2 separate regions of the Homo sapiens genome follow, and region 2 is linked to region 1. The links come from fine-mapping of genetic effects on gene expression. Tissue or cell type: whole blood. Region 1 holds a variant in brackets; the other region holds the start of a gene. All regions are shown on one strand. Distances are from middle to middle.

Region 1 (8,000 bases):
TCCTGTTGTCAAGAAGAGCAGAAAGTGCCGATTTTTTTCTGTGAAATTCGATAATTTTTAAATATTGGCACCTGTTTTGATATCAGTCACTGTATGAGACCAGCTCAGTGTGTCAGTGAGCTGCTTACATTGACATGGCACTGTCTGGAGTGGCAAAACGGTACCAAGAGCCAACATGGGGATAGTGCTCTTCCCCCTTGGTGGGCGCTGGCCTGAGCACTGTGTTGACTGATTTAATCCTCTCACTGACCCCTGATGTAAGTGATGTTATTGGCACAAGGTGTCTGGAGTAAGATCACACGGGTAGAATGAAGAAGCTGGGATGACTCGATGACTGATTTCATTTGGGGAGAATCAGGAAGGTCTAGATTTGAGACTCTTTTAACAATGAGAGACTGGAATCAAATGTTCTCATCCATAGCTCCTATCCTGGACTATGACCTCTGGCCCCTAGCCCCTGGCCCCTGTCCTACCCCAGGGACCACCTCTGATGCAGCCCTACGTAAACACCTGCCCCCCTAGAAGACTGTCCTAGATCCCTGGGGCTCTGTTCTGGCCCAGGCACCACAAGGGGCTGCTGCCTGCTGAGGTGCTCCCTGGTTCAACACGGCTCCCTTTACGATGGCAGGTTTCTAAATGAGAAAAGTGGTTGTGCATGTCTAGAGTATTTGGCCATGATAAGGGGTTCTCATTGTTGGTGGCCTGGCCATTCTGACCTATTCTAGAAGTGGTAGAGCACATGGGGCTGGGGTGTGGGGCTTCAGCGGGCGGTGTGTGTCTCCCAGGATCCACGAGCTGCACTTCATGGACGAGCTGGTCAAGGTGGAGGCCCATGATGCTGAGGTGCTGTGCCTGGAGTACTCCAAGCCAGAGACGGGTGAGCCCGCAGCAGGGGTGGAATGGGGGTCAGGCAGGGAGGCAGCCCCCCTGGCAGGGCCACAGAAAGGGGTAGTTGGTGTCTGGTGGGACTGTGGATGACAGCTGGGAGTTTTGTGTTCGGTAAGGGCCCCTGTAGCTGGACCCTGAGACCAGAGTGGCTGGGACTTCAGAAAGCAAGACACCCGCAGGCAGGACTCAGCTTGACTTGCCCGCTGCTGGTGCCAGCACCCAAGCCAAAGGGGTGGATGTATGAATGAGTGAATTGTGAATGAGAAGATAGATTGATTGTTAGGCATTATTTTCAAAAAGTTTGAAGCCTATAGAAATATTGGGAGAATATTATAATGAACACCCCATAGGCTTCACCCAAATTCCTCAATTTTTTTTTTGAGATGGAGTCTTGCTGTCACCCAGGCTAGAGGGGAGTGGCACCATCTCTGCTGACTGCAGCCTCCACCTCTCTGGTTCAAGTGATTCTCGTGCCTCAGTCTCCCATGTAGCTGGGATTACAGGTGCCTGCTGCCATGCCTGGCCAATTTTTGTATTTTTAGTAGAGATGGGGTTTCACCATGTTGGCCAGGTTGGTCTCAAACTCCTGACCTCAGGTGATCCGCCCGCCTTGGCCTCCCAAAGCGCTGGGATTAGGGCATGAGCCACCACACCTGACCTTTTTTTTTTTTTTTTTTTTTTTGAGACAAGAGTCTCACTCTGTCGCCCTGGCCGGAGGGCAATGACGCGATCTCAGTTCACTGCAACTTCCGCCTCCCAGGTTGAAGCGATTCCCCTGCGTTCAAGCGATTCTCCTGCCTCAGCCTCTCGAGAGTAGCTGGGATTACAGGCACGCCCCCACCACACCCGGCTAATTTTTGTATTTTTAGTACAGACGGGGTTTCACCATGTTAGCCTAGGCTGAAGGCTAGGACCATAGTAGGGTCTCCAGACCTCATGGTCCTCTTCATTAAAACAACAGAAAATTCCTTCTGGGCCATCAGATGAGATCATGAGATAGGAGAAGATTTCCAAGTGAAGATTTCGTTTGTTTCAAGACAGAGTCTTGCTCTGTCACCCAGATGATATATGGATGATATATGGTAGCATTTTGTGTCCTTTTTCTTGTTTATTTTTAGCATAGAAGGTATTGCACGATGCTGGTCTCAAACTCCTGACGTCAGGTGATCCACCCGCCTTGGCCTCCCAAAATGCTGGGATTACAAGCGTGAACCACCATGCCCGGCTCCTCAAGATGTTTTCTAGGCTGGGCACGGTGGCTCATGCCTGTAATCCCAGCACTTTGGGAGTTACAGAGTTGGTGGAGTTATATCCTGATGTGATTTTCCCCATGTTCTTCTTTCGTTCTCTCATCCCCCATGCTGTGTGCCCCACCAACTTGTCTTGAAACATATCTTCACTCGGTTCGCCTCTCCTGATCTCCCCTCTGCCTCAGGTCATGTTATTAGGCCTCAGACATAGCAAGTGACCAGAGTAGGGAAGGCTGGTGGCAGATGGGAGTCTGGCCACAGGCAGTCAATAGGACCTGAACAAGGCCCAGGTAGCCAGACCTCAGAGGGTGAGAGGACACTGGTTTTGGAAGAGGCTGAGAGGTTGCCAGGGCTTTACCCAGCACAGACCCAGCAGGCAAGAGCGCTGGGCTCTGCTGGGGCGTCTGCTGTGGATGTCCCTGGAGGAGCGTCCATGCGCCCATCGAGACTCATCCTCCCTGAGCTGGTGGTGAGGAGGTGAAATGCCAGGGTGTGGGGGCTCTGGGAAAGACCACACAGAGCTAAGGGAGTGGCCCTTGCCAGGCTTGGGCCAAGTTGGCTACAGTTGAAGAACCAAAGACCCCTTCTCCGAGGACTGGGCAGCTTGGTCACACTGCCCTTCTGGGAGGCCAGGGCACCCACGCAGCCTTCAGGAACCAGTCTCATTCTCTCCTCTCACAGGGCTGACCTTGCTGGCCTCAGCCAGTCGGGACCGGCTGATCCATGTGCTGAACGTGGAGAAGAACTACAACCTGGAGCAGACGCTGGATGACCACTCCTCCTCCATCACCGCCATCAAGTTCGCTGGTGAGCCCCTTTCTTCCCGCTCCCTGCGCCTTGCTAGCTACCCTGCTAAAAAAGGATTCATTCTTTCAACTCTCCTGTAAAATATATATCCAAACAAGTGAATACAGTATCTGTGTACAGTATACAGAATAATGACTGGGGCCGGGTGTAATGGCTCACACCTGTAATCCCAACACTTTGGGAGGCCAAGGAGGGTGGATCACCTGAGGTCAGGAGTTCGGGACCTTCCTAGACAACATGGTGAAACCCCGTCTCTACTAAAAATACAAAAATTTGCTGGGCGGGGTGTTGTTTCTGTAATCCCAGCTACTCAGGAGGCCGAGGTGGGAGAATTGCTTGAACCTGGGAGGTGGAGGCTGCACTCCAGCCTAGGCAACAGAGTGAGACCCTGTCTCAAAAAAAAAAGAATAATGGCCAGGTACCATGGCTCACACCTGTAATCTCAGCACTTTGGGAGGCCAAGGCAGGTAGATCATGAGGTCAGGAGTTCGAGACCAGTCTGGCCAACATAGTGAAACCCCATCTCTACTAAAAATACAAAAAAATTAGCCAGGCATGGTGGTGTGCACCTGTAATCCCAGCTACTCGGGAGGCTGAGGCAGGAGAATTGTGTGAACCCGGGAGGCGGAGGTTGCAGTGAGCCAAGATTGCGCCAGTGACTCCACTCCAGCTTGGGTGACAATGCGAGACTTTGTCTCAAAAAAAAAAAAAAGAAGAATATAGGCCGGGCGTGGTGGCTCATGCTTGTCATCCCAGCACTTTGGGAGGCTGAGGCAGGCAGATCACCTGAAGCTAGGAGTTTAAGACCAGCCTGGCCAACATAGTGAAACCCCGTCTCTACTAAAAATTCAAAAAAAGTAACCGGGCATGGTGGTGCACACCTGTAATCCCAGCTACTTGGGAGGCTGAGGCAGGAGAATAGCTTGAATCCAGGAGGCCAAGGTTGCAGTGAGCCAAAATTGTTTCACTGCACTCCAGTCTGGGTAACAAGAGCAAAACTCCATCTCAAAAAAAATAAAAATAAAAAATAAGCTGGGCGTGGTGGCCGAAGTGAGTATCCACAGTTCTTAGGAGCAAGGTTTGAACTAGGACGTTGTTGATAGCAGAGACTGTTCTAATTGCTCATGGTCGTAATATTGTTAAATACGGTACTTGGATTCACCACGTGCAGGTTAAGAAGCAGAACATTACCAGAGGCTTGCAGGCCTTCTCTGGGTCCCTCCCAGGTTACCCTTCCTCCCTTATATGGGGCTCACTCCCTTCTGTGAGCCAATGACTCCTCCTTGAGCAACATCTAATACTTGTATGTCAGGCCTGGACCCTCTCAAATGTCCTGTCATGAAGGAGCATGTGTGATGTGCCCAGACTCAGAGTTTTATATTTGTTCTGTCATTTCATCCTCACCAAACTGTTATTCTGTAAAGAAATGAGACGGCCGGGGGCATCTCACGCCATTGCACTCCAGCCTGGGCAACAAGAGCGAAACTCTGTCTCAAAAAAAAAGAAATGAGAATAATAAAAGCAAGAATGTTTCTAATGCTTACCATGTGGCAGTCCCTGTTCCAAGGGCTTCACATCACTCTCCAGAGAAGG[A/G]ACTGTCACCATGCCCATTGTACGGACCGGAAGTTGAGGCTCAAAGGGGAGGCCCAGGTTCAGAGCAGTGTTTAACAGCTTTGACCTTGGCACCAGAGAATGCCTGGGTTCAGTCCTGCCCCTGTCCTCTCTGTGTGCCTTGGGACAAGGACTCTGTGAACCTCTGTGTTCATGCTTGTCCAGTGGGATGGGTGGTGAGCATTCAGGAAGACCCGCTACATGCATGGGGCCTGGCCCAAGGCTCATGTGGATCTTGCAGTTGATCCTGATGGCACGAGCCTCCCAGCCTGTCTCCACTGGTCGCTGCTGCAGTCCTGCCTCTACTCCGCTACTCAAGTCACCTATCTCAATCCCAGACTGGAGAGGGTGTCCCTTCTTTGTCCCCAGCCTTTGTTTCTCTATATGCCCTTGCTCTGCAGAGCCTGCCTTGGCCACAGCTCCACCTGTGCCCCCTCACACGTACAGCTCATACCTTACAGAGTCCCACCCAGACCCAGCACCCACCTCACCACCTTTAGGAAGCCTTGATCCCAGCACAGTTGATTGATGGCTCTTGCAGTGGAGTTCCCCAGCTAGGGTCCCCTGCCCATGTGGCCCAGCCCTGCCTAACACACAGCGTCCTCCTCCCCTAGGCAACAGAGACATCCAGATGATCAGCTGTGGGGCTGACAAGAGCATCTACTTTCGCAGTGCCCAGCAGGTAGGGTGGCATGGCCTCCTTGGGGGCTGGGGTGGGGGGTTGTCGGGGCATTCTCTGAAGGTCCTGCCGGCCCTGCCAGGGTTCGGATGGACTACACTTTGTCCGTACCCACCACGTAGCAGAGAAAACCACCTTGTATGACATGGACATTGACATCACCCAGAAGTACGTGGCCGTGGCCTGCCAGGACCGCAATGTGAGGTAAGGGGTGGCCCTGGACCCTTAGCTGGCCTGGTCTGCCTTGTCCTAGGCTGTCTGCTTTCCTCCCTCTGTTCCTCTGGTCCCCAAGAAGCTGGGAAGGAATTGAGGGACCCAGCAGGTGTTCCTTCTTGGTTTTTTTTTGTTTTTGTTTTTGAGGCAGAGTCTTGCTCTGTTGCCCATGCTAGAGTGCAGTGGCACCATTTTAGCTCACTGCAACCTCCACCTCCTGGGTTCAAGTGATTCTCCTGCCTCAGCCTCCCAAGTAGCTGGAATTACAGGCGCCTGCCACCATGCCTAGCTAATTTTTTGTATTTTTAGTAGAGACGAGGTTTCGCCATGTTGGCCAGGCTGGTCTCGAACTCCTGACCTCAGGTGATATTGCCCACCTCAGCCTCCCAAAGTGCTGGGATTACAGGCGTGAGCCACCGTGCCCGGCCACCAGCAGGTATTTCTTAGAAGCTGGGCTCTCCCAAGCCTGGCCTCCAGGTCAGCAGAGGGCTTTCTTCTGGCTCTCCCTAGAGCCGGTGTGGGATGACTAAGGTGCTGATGTGGCACATAAACTCCCTCATTCACCCGTATTCCCTGAGCACCTAACTGGGCTGGATGGTGCTGGGATCATGGCAGTGGCCAGGATAGCCCCAGGCCCTCCTTCATGGAGCTCACAGTCCAGTAGAATGGACACGGCCACCTCACAGCCACAGACAGTGACAGAGTGGTCAGAGATGGGGGAGCCCAGGGGCCCTGTGGAGACACCTGACCCCACCTGCGGATCAAGCAGGACTTCCTGGAGGAAGAGACACCTTAGCCTGGGGAGGATGTGGAGGAGCGAGCCAGGGGGAGGCAGAGAGTGAGTGTGCAGAGGGCAAAGCAGTGCAAAGAGGCTCTGCACCCCTTCCCAGTTCTTTCTCATGCGGTGCCAAGCACTGAGCTTGCAGTGTGTGGGGGAGATGAACATTAACTCAGTGGATACCCCAGGACAACCTCAGCTTGAGATGGGGTTTCAGTTTCAGTCTAGGCATCAGATGGGGACAAGAGGTAGCAGGGGGCTTCCAGGGGAGGGGAGGACAGCAAGAGCCAGAGAATGAGGTGGTGGGGTAGGCGGGGCCCTGTTGGCCGCAACATGCCCCTACTTCCCCAGAGTCTACAACACTGTGAACGGGAAGCAGAAGAAGTGCTACAAGGGCTCCCAGGGTGACGAAGGGTCCTTGCTGAAGGTGAGGAGTTGGAGACCCCTGTCTGTCTGCTGCCCTGATGGGCCACCTATTGTGACGGCCCACACCTGAGACCTGTGCCCTTGGTCCTTCCTCAGTGCACCGCGCTGCCCAGCACCTTCTCAGGCCTGGTTAAACAAGGATGCTTGCGAGAGGGTGGGGAGGGTGACCCCAGCTGTGTTTCCTTTATTTACAGAGCCCTTCCCCAAGTGGGGCGTCTAAGTGGGTTCCATTTTGAGTGGCAGCAGGGTATGGTGGGAAGAATCAGAGGCATGAACTCCCCTCCTGGTTTGCCCACACCAGCCACGGGTCACTCAGGACAAGGGGGGACCTTCTCAGAGCCTCTGGTCTAGGACAGTTATGGGTTCAGGTTCTGCCTCAGGCTGACTGTGTGACCTTGGGCAAGCATCATCTCTTGAAATGCACACAGACAGCTTGTCTCATAGACTTGTTCTCTGGAGGAGTTCAGTTTGCACATGTTCAGTGCTTAGCACAGGGCCTGGCTACTGTTGTTACTGCTGCGGTGGTTGTTAATTTCTTCACGTGTCGAATGGGAGCGGGAGCTCCTGCCCTGCCAGAGTCCCATGTGCTGTGCATGCAGCACGGGGGAGGGAGGGGCCCAGGCCTCATCATAAGGAAGAAGCAGGCAGCTGGAGTGACATGTGGGTCCCTTTCCTGGCAGGTCCATGTGGACCCCTCAGGCACCTTCCTGGCCACCAGCTGCTCTGACAAAAGCATCTCAGTGATTGACTTTTACTCGGGCGAGTGCATTGCCAAGATGTTTGGCCATTCAGGTGGGTGTGCCTCTCTGCTTGGGATGCCTCCCCACCCGCCCACACCCTCTGACTCCGAAGGCAAGTGCAGCCTCTCTGCTTTGTTTGCAGAAATTATTACCAGCATGAAGTTCACCTATGACTGTCATCACTTGATCACAGTATCTGGAGACAGGTGGGACATGGACCTTTGGGAGAGTTGTGGCTCAGATACCATGAGCACTGCACTCAGCCTGCCTGTGTAGAGAGCATTTCTAAACTGCCCAGTTTGGATTGTGGGAGTCTTGGTGTCACACCCAGCCCTGAGTTCAAATACCAGCTCTAAGCTGGGCATGATGGCTCACGCCTGTAACCCCAGCACTTTGGGACGCTGAGGCGGGTGGATCACTTGAGCTCAGGAGTTCGAGACCAGCCTGGGCAACATAGCAAAACCCTATCTCTACAAAAAATTAGCCGGGTGTGGTCATGTACACCTCTAGTCCCAGCTACTCAGGAGGGGGAAGATGGCTTGAACCTGGTAGGTAGAGGTTGCAGGGAGCACAGATCATGCCAGTGCATTCCAGCCTTGGTGACAGAG
Region 2 (8,000 bases), 26 kb after region 1:
AAAAAAAAAATTAAAAAACAGAGCTTGGATTGCTTCTTAGTCTTCTGGCTAAGAATCAAGTGTAAAACAGCTTGGCCAGTGTGCCGGGGTAGGGTCCTGGGAGCCCCTGGCTGTGTCAAGAGACCCCCTTTGGGCCAGGTGCGGTGGCTCATGCCTGTAATCCCAGCACTTTGGGAGGCCAAGGCAGGCGGATCACTTGACGTCAGGAGTTCAAGACTAGCCTGGCCAACATGGTGAAACTCTGTCTCTACCAAAAATACAAAAATTAGCCCGGTGTGGTGGTGCATGCCTGTAGTCCCAGCTACTCAGGAGGCTGAGGCAGGAGAATCGTTTGAACCCGGGAGGTGGAGGTTCCAGTGAGCCAAGATGGTGCCACTGCACTCCAGCCTGGGCAACAAGAGTGAAACTCCGTCTCAAAAAAAGAAAAAAAAATAGGAGACCCCCTTTTACTTTCCAGACTGTGGGAGGGAGGAAGAGTGTTGTCCCAGGCAGTAACTAGGGGCTAGATTATTAACAAACTAGTATTTTAGTGCCTGCTACACCTGAACAGTGCTTCTGGCTGAATGTTAGCCCTGGGAATCTGAAGATCAGAGAGGTGGGGCATCCTACCTGAGGATGCACAGCCTGGATCCTCATTTTGCCCTGATTTATCCAGATCTGCTGTCCTCCCTGCACCCTACAGAGCAGGGCAATCACAGCAGGGGGCCCCTTCAGTGTCCTCAGACAGCTGCTGTGATTTGAATAACCAGGCAGGCTGCTGGATGTCCCCTGGTGACTGATTTGCCTGGCAAACAGACCCTCAACCCCTGGGAGACAGTCCCCCTGGGGCCTTGTTTCTTCTTCCTATCCTCAAAAGCTCCCCAGGCCCATCTCCCCTTGCCTGGCTCTGCTTGGTGGTCCTAGTGCTTGTCCACCCCTGGAGGCTGGATGGTTCCCTCCAAAACCTGGGAGAAGATGGGCAGGTCCCCAGGCAGGGGTAACCTGAGCCAGCTTAGTCCACTCCCAGGGCCAGCCAGGAAATTTGCATGAAGAGAATGAGGTTCCTCAGAGGCTTCCCCTCCTTTCCCACCAGGGATAGTCATCCTGGGGCTGAGGTCTGACAGCAGGTGGAAGCAGCCCCTGTGTGTGGAGAGCCTTCCGGAGGGCATGCCCCGCGCCTTCCTGGTCAGGAGTCGGCGTCCACAGCCCCCCAACTGGGGCCATCTGCCTGACCAGCTCCGGGGAGATGCCTATATCCCAGGTGGGCCCCTCACTGTGCCTGGAGGTAAGGGGCAGGAGAGACGCAGTGTCACCATCTGGCTTTTCTCCTCAGACTGCAGCAGCCTGGGGGGGCCACCGGCACAACAGTCGTCCAGTGTCAGGGATCCGTGGACAGCGGTGAGTGTGTAACTGGCTAGCAAAGCCAGCTGTTTCGCTCCTGCCTGCTCTCAGCCTTAATGAAGCTGACAGCCCCTTGCTCCCCCGACCCATCTGCACACGCCCTCCAGCCTCGGGACCTGTCCGCCCCTACTTCTCTGTGTTGGGAATGCCTCTCCTTTCCTAGTAGTGAGCTCTCTACTGTTAGGTCTCACCCCAGGCACCAGGGCCGGCAGCCACAGGGATCTCTTCCAGCGGGGCACAAGATTCATCCCCACATGTGGATGATCCGCTTTATGTCAGAACATGGGACAAGGCAACAGGAGTGCGATGGGAGATAAGGGCTTTTTCAGCTGTGCATGCATTGGAGGAAGGAAAGCGCCAGCCGGAATGTAATATATTCATGAAAGCAAGGCACTGTTCTAGGCATGGGCTGTTATATTCAGCGGGAATAAGACAAAAATCCACAATTTTATGGAGCTTATATTCTGGTTGGGGCTGCATGTATAGACAATAAAATTAGTCAGCCTGTAATTCCAGCACTTTGGGAGGCCGAGGCGGGTGAATCACTTGAGGTCATGAGTTCGAGACCAGGCTGGCCAACATGTTGAAACCTTGTCTCTACTAAAATTACAAACATTAGCCAGACATGGTGGCACGTGCCTGTAATCCCAGCTCCTCAGGAGGCTGAGGCAGGAGAATCAGTTGAACCTAGGAGGCAGGGCAGAGGATGCAGTGAGCCGAGTCTGCGCCACTGCACTCCAGCCTGGGAAACAGATCTAGACTCCATCCCCCCTCAAAAAAAACAATAAAATTAGAAAAATAGACCGGGCATAGTGGCTCATGCCTGTAATCCCAGCACTTTGTGAGGCCAAGGTGGGTGGATTGCTTGAGGTCAGGAATTCAAGACCAGCCTGGCCAACATGGTGAAACCCCATCTCTACAAAAAATAAAAAAATTAACTGGGCATGTGGCGCATGCCTACAATCGTGTAATCGTGGGGAGGCTGAGGCACTAGAATCGCTTGAACCCGGGAGGCGGAGGTTGCAGTGACCTGACATCATACCACTTCACTCCTGCCTGGGCGACAGAGCAAGACTCTGTCTTTAAAAAAAAAAAATGTGTATGTCACATCAGAAGATGGGACTTGGCATAGAGAAAGTAAGGACCATGGGATAGTGAGGGAAGGCCCTGGAGAGTGACAGGCACACACACTAATCACTGTCTCCCACCTGCCTTCCTAATCCTCCGTGGTGGCTCAGGACACTCTGTAAATACTCATTTGCAGAGTAACAAAGGGTGGATGGGGTCCAGCCAGAGAGGCTAATAACTCCTGCATCCCTCCAGCAGCCCACACAGGGCAACCTGACCTCTGCTCCCAGGGGCCCTGGGACGCTGGGCTGCCCGCTCTGCCCTAAGGCCTTCCCTCTGCAGCGCATGCTGACAAGGCACCTCAAGTGCCACAGCCCCGTGCGCCGCCACCTGTGCCGCTGTTGTGGCAAGGGCTTTCATGACGCCTTCGATCTCAAGCGCCACATGAGGACTCACACTGGTGAGCAGTGGCAGGGACAGGGAAAAGTTGCTGGGCCCCAGGTGGGGATGGAAGGAAATGGAGAGAGGTGCTGGGCTGTGGAGTGTCCATGGTTTGTGTATGTGGGGTATGGAGAATCAAGACATGATGTCTCTCGGACCCCAGTGGGTGGGTGTAAGGTGGCACCAAAATAGGGGCCTGTCACGGAATGCAGAGTGCAGACGGATGCCGGTTATACGATTCAGGCTCCAGATCGAAAGGCAAGGGAAGGCCTCCCTCTCCATCCCCCAGGGGAGGGAGCATCCTGGTGAGGGAGAGTGGAGACACAGGTGTCTGGCCCATGTCTGCACTGGGTGACGGTAGCAGATGGTGGGTCATGGGCGGAAGAGTCTGAAGAGCTTGGAATAGGTACCAGAAATGCTCAACACTGGAAAGCAGGGTGGGGGCGCTTTAGTCCAGAGCCCATTGCCCTCTCTGTCCAGCCCTCCCCTCTGCGCCCATCTGTGCAGGGATCCGGCCCTTCCGCTGCAGTGCTTGCGGGAAAGCGTTTACGCAGCGCTGCTCCCTGGAAGCTCACCTTGCTAAGGTGCATGGACAGCCGGCCAGCTACGCTTACCGTGAGCGCCGCGAGAAGCTGCACGTGTGCGAGGACTGCGGCTTCACCAGCTCCCGGCCCGACACCTACGCACAGCACCGCGCCCTGCACCGCGCAGCCTGATACGGTGTGCCAGCGTCCTCCCCACGAGGCAAATAAACACAGAAAACTCACGCATGGAATCTGGTGTTTATTACACTCGGGGGAGAGAGGAGGTCACTCGGTCCAGCGGTGGCCGCAGTGTGGGGCTGTGCACACGTAGTAAAGGCGCATGGCGTCCTGGCAGAAATGATGCATGGTTAGGAAGGATTTGGACCCAGCAGCGCCTTACCCCAAAAGAACAGGCAAGAGAACTTCACCAATAGGTAAGGGCCCGGCAGAGTTCCAAGAAGCGCAGGGTCACCCACATTGATATCCCCGCCCCCAGAAAGGACCAAACAAGCCCCAGATACTTAGAAAGCCCTCGCGCCACTTACCTCGGCCCGCGCACTGTGTGACTGGAAGAACACAGCCTCCTTGTGGCCGCACCTGAGAGGGTAGGGGCTCGGTCACCGGAGGCTTCACACCCTTCCCTCCTCCCTTCGCCCAGTGAGGAGACGAGCCTCACTTTACCTCCCCAGTACCAGCTGAACGCTCACTTTTGGCACGGGTGGTCCTCGGTCCGCGGCAACGTGGGGTCCTGGGACACGTCGGCGATAATCTGGGTCAGTTCGCTGCAGGGACGCGGGGGTGCAAAATTACGCTCAGACCCAGCCTCCAGAGCCAACACCCCCGCCCCCAGCTCAGGGCCCGCCACTCACTCCACTTCGTGCGTGATCTTGTTGACATAGATGCAGCTGTTGTCGGCCTCCTGCTGGTAATCACAGTTCCGGCACTACGAGAGGGCGAGTGTGGGGGAAAGGGGGTCACGGAAGGATTCCAGACAAGATTGGGAGGAGAGGGCAGGGTGATCCCGGAGGATATGACGACAGGACTCTCTTTGGGGATGGGCAGGACATGAGAGTCAGGATCACTTGAGGTGCAGCGGAGGGCGAACAGGGAGTCCGATCACAGAGGCAGGGGGCAGGGCGGGGCCACGCTGGGAACAGGTGGACCTGCCGGGGAAGACCCCGGCGCTCACCGCGTAGAGCAGAATGCGGTTCTCCTTGTCTTCCTTGGGGTACAGCATGTTGTTACTGTGGGGAGGGGGAGGTGCCAGGGGTTAGTTCTGGAGCCATTCCTCGCCCGCCTTCTAACATCACCCGCTCCCTCCGCCTCACCATTCCTGGCAGAAGCGAATACCCACGAAGCCCGGCTCGTAAGTCCCGTCGGGCTCCATGGCGACGCGCAGCCCGCGCAGCCCTCCCAGCCTTCCGCGCTTGCTCCGCCGCGCTACAGGTCGCGGGAGGGGCCAGGCCTAGGTGCTTCGCCAAAAGAGGGCGGAGCTGCGCACACGTGCTGGCTCCCCGCCGCCTCGGGCTCGGCTCTCTCCGCGCAGAGGTTTCATGGCTTGCTTCAATCTTTTGATATCTTAGAGTAATTGCTTCCAATTTTTGGGCATCGCCGCCTCAGTTTACAGAATAGTATGGATCTGGTGCCAGAGCCGGGAAAACGATGCGCATCGTAAACCGCAAAACACTGAGCATCCAGGACAGAAGCCAAGGCGCTTGGCTTGGTTGAAGGCCAGTGCGCATGCGCGAGTTTACCCTTCGCGGACTGGGCGAGCTCTTGCCACTCCTACCTCCGGGCTTCAGTCTTCGCCGCCTGTTCTGGTCCTTTCCCGGGCCGCTATTGGAAGAACCGTGAACTATGGAAGGCCCCTCTGGATTGGCTGGGCTGGCCCAAGAGTAAGGAGAGCCCTCTTCCTGGCGGTGGGGAAGGGACGGCGGCGATTGGCGGACGCTCCTGGCAGGAGAGCGCGGATTGGTCAGGCACGGAGCAGGAGGCGGGGCTGATAGCCCAGCAGCAGCAGCGGCGGCGGCGGCTGCGGAGCGGGTGTGAGGCGGCTGGACCGCGCTGCAGGCATCCGCAGGGCGCGGCAAGATGGAGGTGACGGGGGTGTCGGCACCCACGGTGACCGTTTTCATCAGCAGCTCCCTCAACACCTTCCGCTCCGAGAAGCGATACAGCCGCAGCCTCACCATCGCTGAGTTCAAGGTGTGGCCATGGGGGCGGGGTCCGGAGGGGCGGGGCGAAGAAATTGGGGGGTTCCCGGAAGGGGGAGGCTGGGAGGGGCCGGGGAGTGACTGGGCGGGCCCGGAGGTGATCCCAGGCTGCGGAGGCTGGGGACCCGGTCGCGGCGGGGCGGGTCCGGAGAGAACTCGAGAGTGCAGAGATGAGGGCCGGGTCCAGCGAAAAATCCGACGGTCCAGAGGGCGGGGGCAAGAGGCGAGGGGCTGGATTGCGGCCCCGTGCGTCCTGACTGGGGGGTCTTTTGGAGGAAAAGGGACGTGGCGATGGTCATTGATGCAAGGGGCGGGGCCTCCGTGGCCTCCTTCTTCTCACCCTGCCTCCTCCTCACAGTGTAAACTGGAGTTGCTGGTGGGCAGCCCTGCTTCCTGCATGGAACTGGAGCTGTATGGAGTTGACGACAAGTTCTACAGCAAGCTGGATCAAGAGGATGCGCTCCTGGGCTCCTACCCTGTAGATGACGGCTGCCGCATCCACGTGAGGACTCTCTATCTGGGACACTCCCCCACCCCACCTTTCATTTGGTTATTCAACAGACACTTGCTGGGCTTTGCCCTCAGTCATACCCGAGATAGGTCCTGCCTTCGTGGAGCCTCCAGTGCAGCCTGACGAGAGACAGACCCATCATTAGACAGGGACAGCCTAGAGTGGTCTGGGCTGGGATCAGGAAATCCCAGGGGACTGGAGCCACCAAGAAGAGGTGCCTGACTCCACCTGGGAGAATCAGAGAGGGCTTCCTGGAGGAAGGGATGTCTGAGCTGAGGGATGAGGAAAGGGTGACTTAAGAGAAAGAGGTGGAAAGGAGGGAGCAGGGTGTACAGAGGCCTAGAATGTGAGGTAGGTCACAGTGAGCGACCAGGCTGGACAGCTTGGGAGAAACCAGAACACAGGATCTCTTTGTGCATCCACTCAGTACATCCTTTCTGTCTTTTTTTGAGACAGAGTCTCACTCTGTCACCCAACCTGGAATGGAGTGCAGTGGCACTATCGGGCTCACTGCAGCCTTCACCTCCTGGGTTCAAGTGATCCTTGTGCCCCAGCCTCCCGAGTAGCTGGGATTACAGGTGCCCACCCAGCTAATTTTTGTATTTTTAGTAGAGATGGGTTTTTGCCATGTTGGCCAGGCTGGTCTGGAACTCCTGACCTCAAGTGATCAGCTCACCTTGGCCTACTAAAGTGCTGGGATTACAGGCGTGAGCCACCAAGCCCAGCCCCTTTCTGTCCTTATTCCCTCCCGACCTCACTCAGTCTGTAGCAGCCACATTGCTCCTTGCACAGTCCAGGTGAGCTCGGCCTCTGGATCCTGGGCCTGAATGGTTCTTTTGTCATATGCCTGCGTGCCTCACCCTTCCTTCCTGTCTTAATTTAAAGTGTCAGTATTCTAGTGAAGTCTTCACCGGCCTCAGTGTTAACGTTTACCTCATTCCTTTCCCCTTCTTTGCTTTATTTTAGATTTTTGTGTTTACAAGTAATTCTCCTCTGACACACTCTGGATTTCTCTCATCTGGTTTATTTACTCTCTGTCTCCCTGGATTCGAGTGCCCTGAGGGTGGAAATTTTGATCACTATAATTCACTACTGTGTCCCCAGTACTTGGAATAGTGCCTGGGACAGGGAGGATAGTCCGTGAATCGTTTTTTGTTTTGTTTTGTTCGAGACAGAGTTTTGCCCTTGTTCCCCAGGCCGGAATGCAGTGGTGTGATCTCAGCTCACTGCAACCTCTGTCTCCTGGGTTCAAGCTATTCTCCTGCCTCAGCCTCCCAAGTAGCTGGGATTACAGGTGTGCACCACCACGCCTGGCTAATTTTGTAATTTTGTATTTTAAGTAGAGTTGGGGTTTCACCATGTTGGCCAGGCTGGTCTTGAACTCCTGACCTCAAGTGATCTGCCCACCTCAGCCTCGCAAAGTGCTGGGATTACAGGCATGAGCCACCACGCCCAGCCCTGTGAATCATTGTTGAATGATGAATTGAATCCATAAAGTAAGACCACAAGGATAATGTAATTATCCCCATTTTGCAGAAGAGAAAATTTAGCTTCAGGGTGGAGTTTATTTATTTATTTTTTATTTTTTTTGAGACAGAGTCTTGCTCTGTCTCCCAGGCTGGCGTGCAGTGGCATGATCTCGGCTCACTGCAACCTCCGCCTCCCCGGTTCAAGCGATTCTCCTGCCTCAGCCTCCCGAGTAGGTGGGATTACAGATGCCCGCCACTACACCAGGGTAATTTTTGTATTTTTAGTAGAGACGGGGTTTCACCATGTTAGTCAGACTGGTCTCGAACTCCTGACCTCAGGTAATCCGCCCACCTCGGCCTCCCAAAGTGCTGGGATTACAGGCATGAGCCACCG

The links. PIP is the estimated chance that this variant, and not a neighbour inherited with it, causes the effect.
Region 2: it holds the start of POLR2I, and the variant in region 1 is fine-mapped to the expression of POLR2I in whole blood (INTERVAL, PIP 0.96).

What each region holds. Positions count from the first base shown.
Region 1 is chr19:36,083,868-36,091,867 of GRCh38, forward strand. It overlaps WDR62 (WD repeat domain 62), which reads left to right. Exons shown (of 32, transcript NM_001083961.2): 12 at 786-877; 13 at 2,820-2,945; 14 at 5,171-5,238; 15 at 5,318-5,439; 16 at 6,578-6,653; 17 at 7,333-7,444; 18 at 7,535-7,598. Among named protein-coding and RNA genes, the nearest start is that of OVOL3, 23 kb to the right of the region's middle. The variant A/G (reference allele first, on the strand shown) is at 4,539.
Region 2 is chr19:36,110,057-36,118,056 of GRCh38, forward strand. POLR2I (RNA polymerase II subunit I) reads right to left here and starts at 4,819. Exons shown (of 6, transcript NM_006233.5): 1 at 4,742-4,819; 2 at 4,603-4,657; 3 at 4,283-4,356; 4 at 4,121-4,195; 5 at 3,959-4,010; 6 at 3,653-3,761. The coding sequence starts at 4,800. The coding sequence ends at 3,699. It overlaps OVOL3 (ovo like zinc finger 3), which reads left to right and starts at 1,087. Exons shown (of 4, transcript NM_001302757.2): 1 at 1,087-1,240; 2 at 1,313-1,377; 3 at 2,704-2,908; 4 at 3,397-3,655. The coding sequence starts at 1,147. The coding sequence ends at 3,605. TBCB (tubulin folding cofactor B) reads left to right here and starts at 5,412. Exons shown (of 6, transcript NM_001281.3): 1 at 5,412-5,618; 2 at 5,985-6,128. The coding sequence starts at 5,505. It also overlaps a transcript of WDR62 not described here. RefSeq lists enhancers at 686-1,316, 1,317-1,946, 3,803-4,314, 4,333-4,462, 6,053-6,142 and a silencer at 5,653-5,742.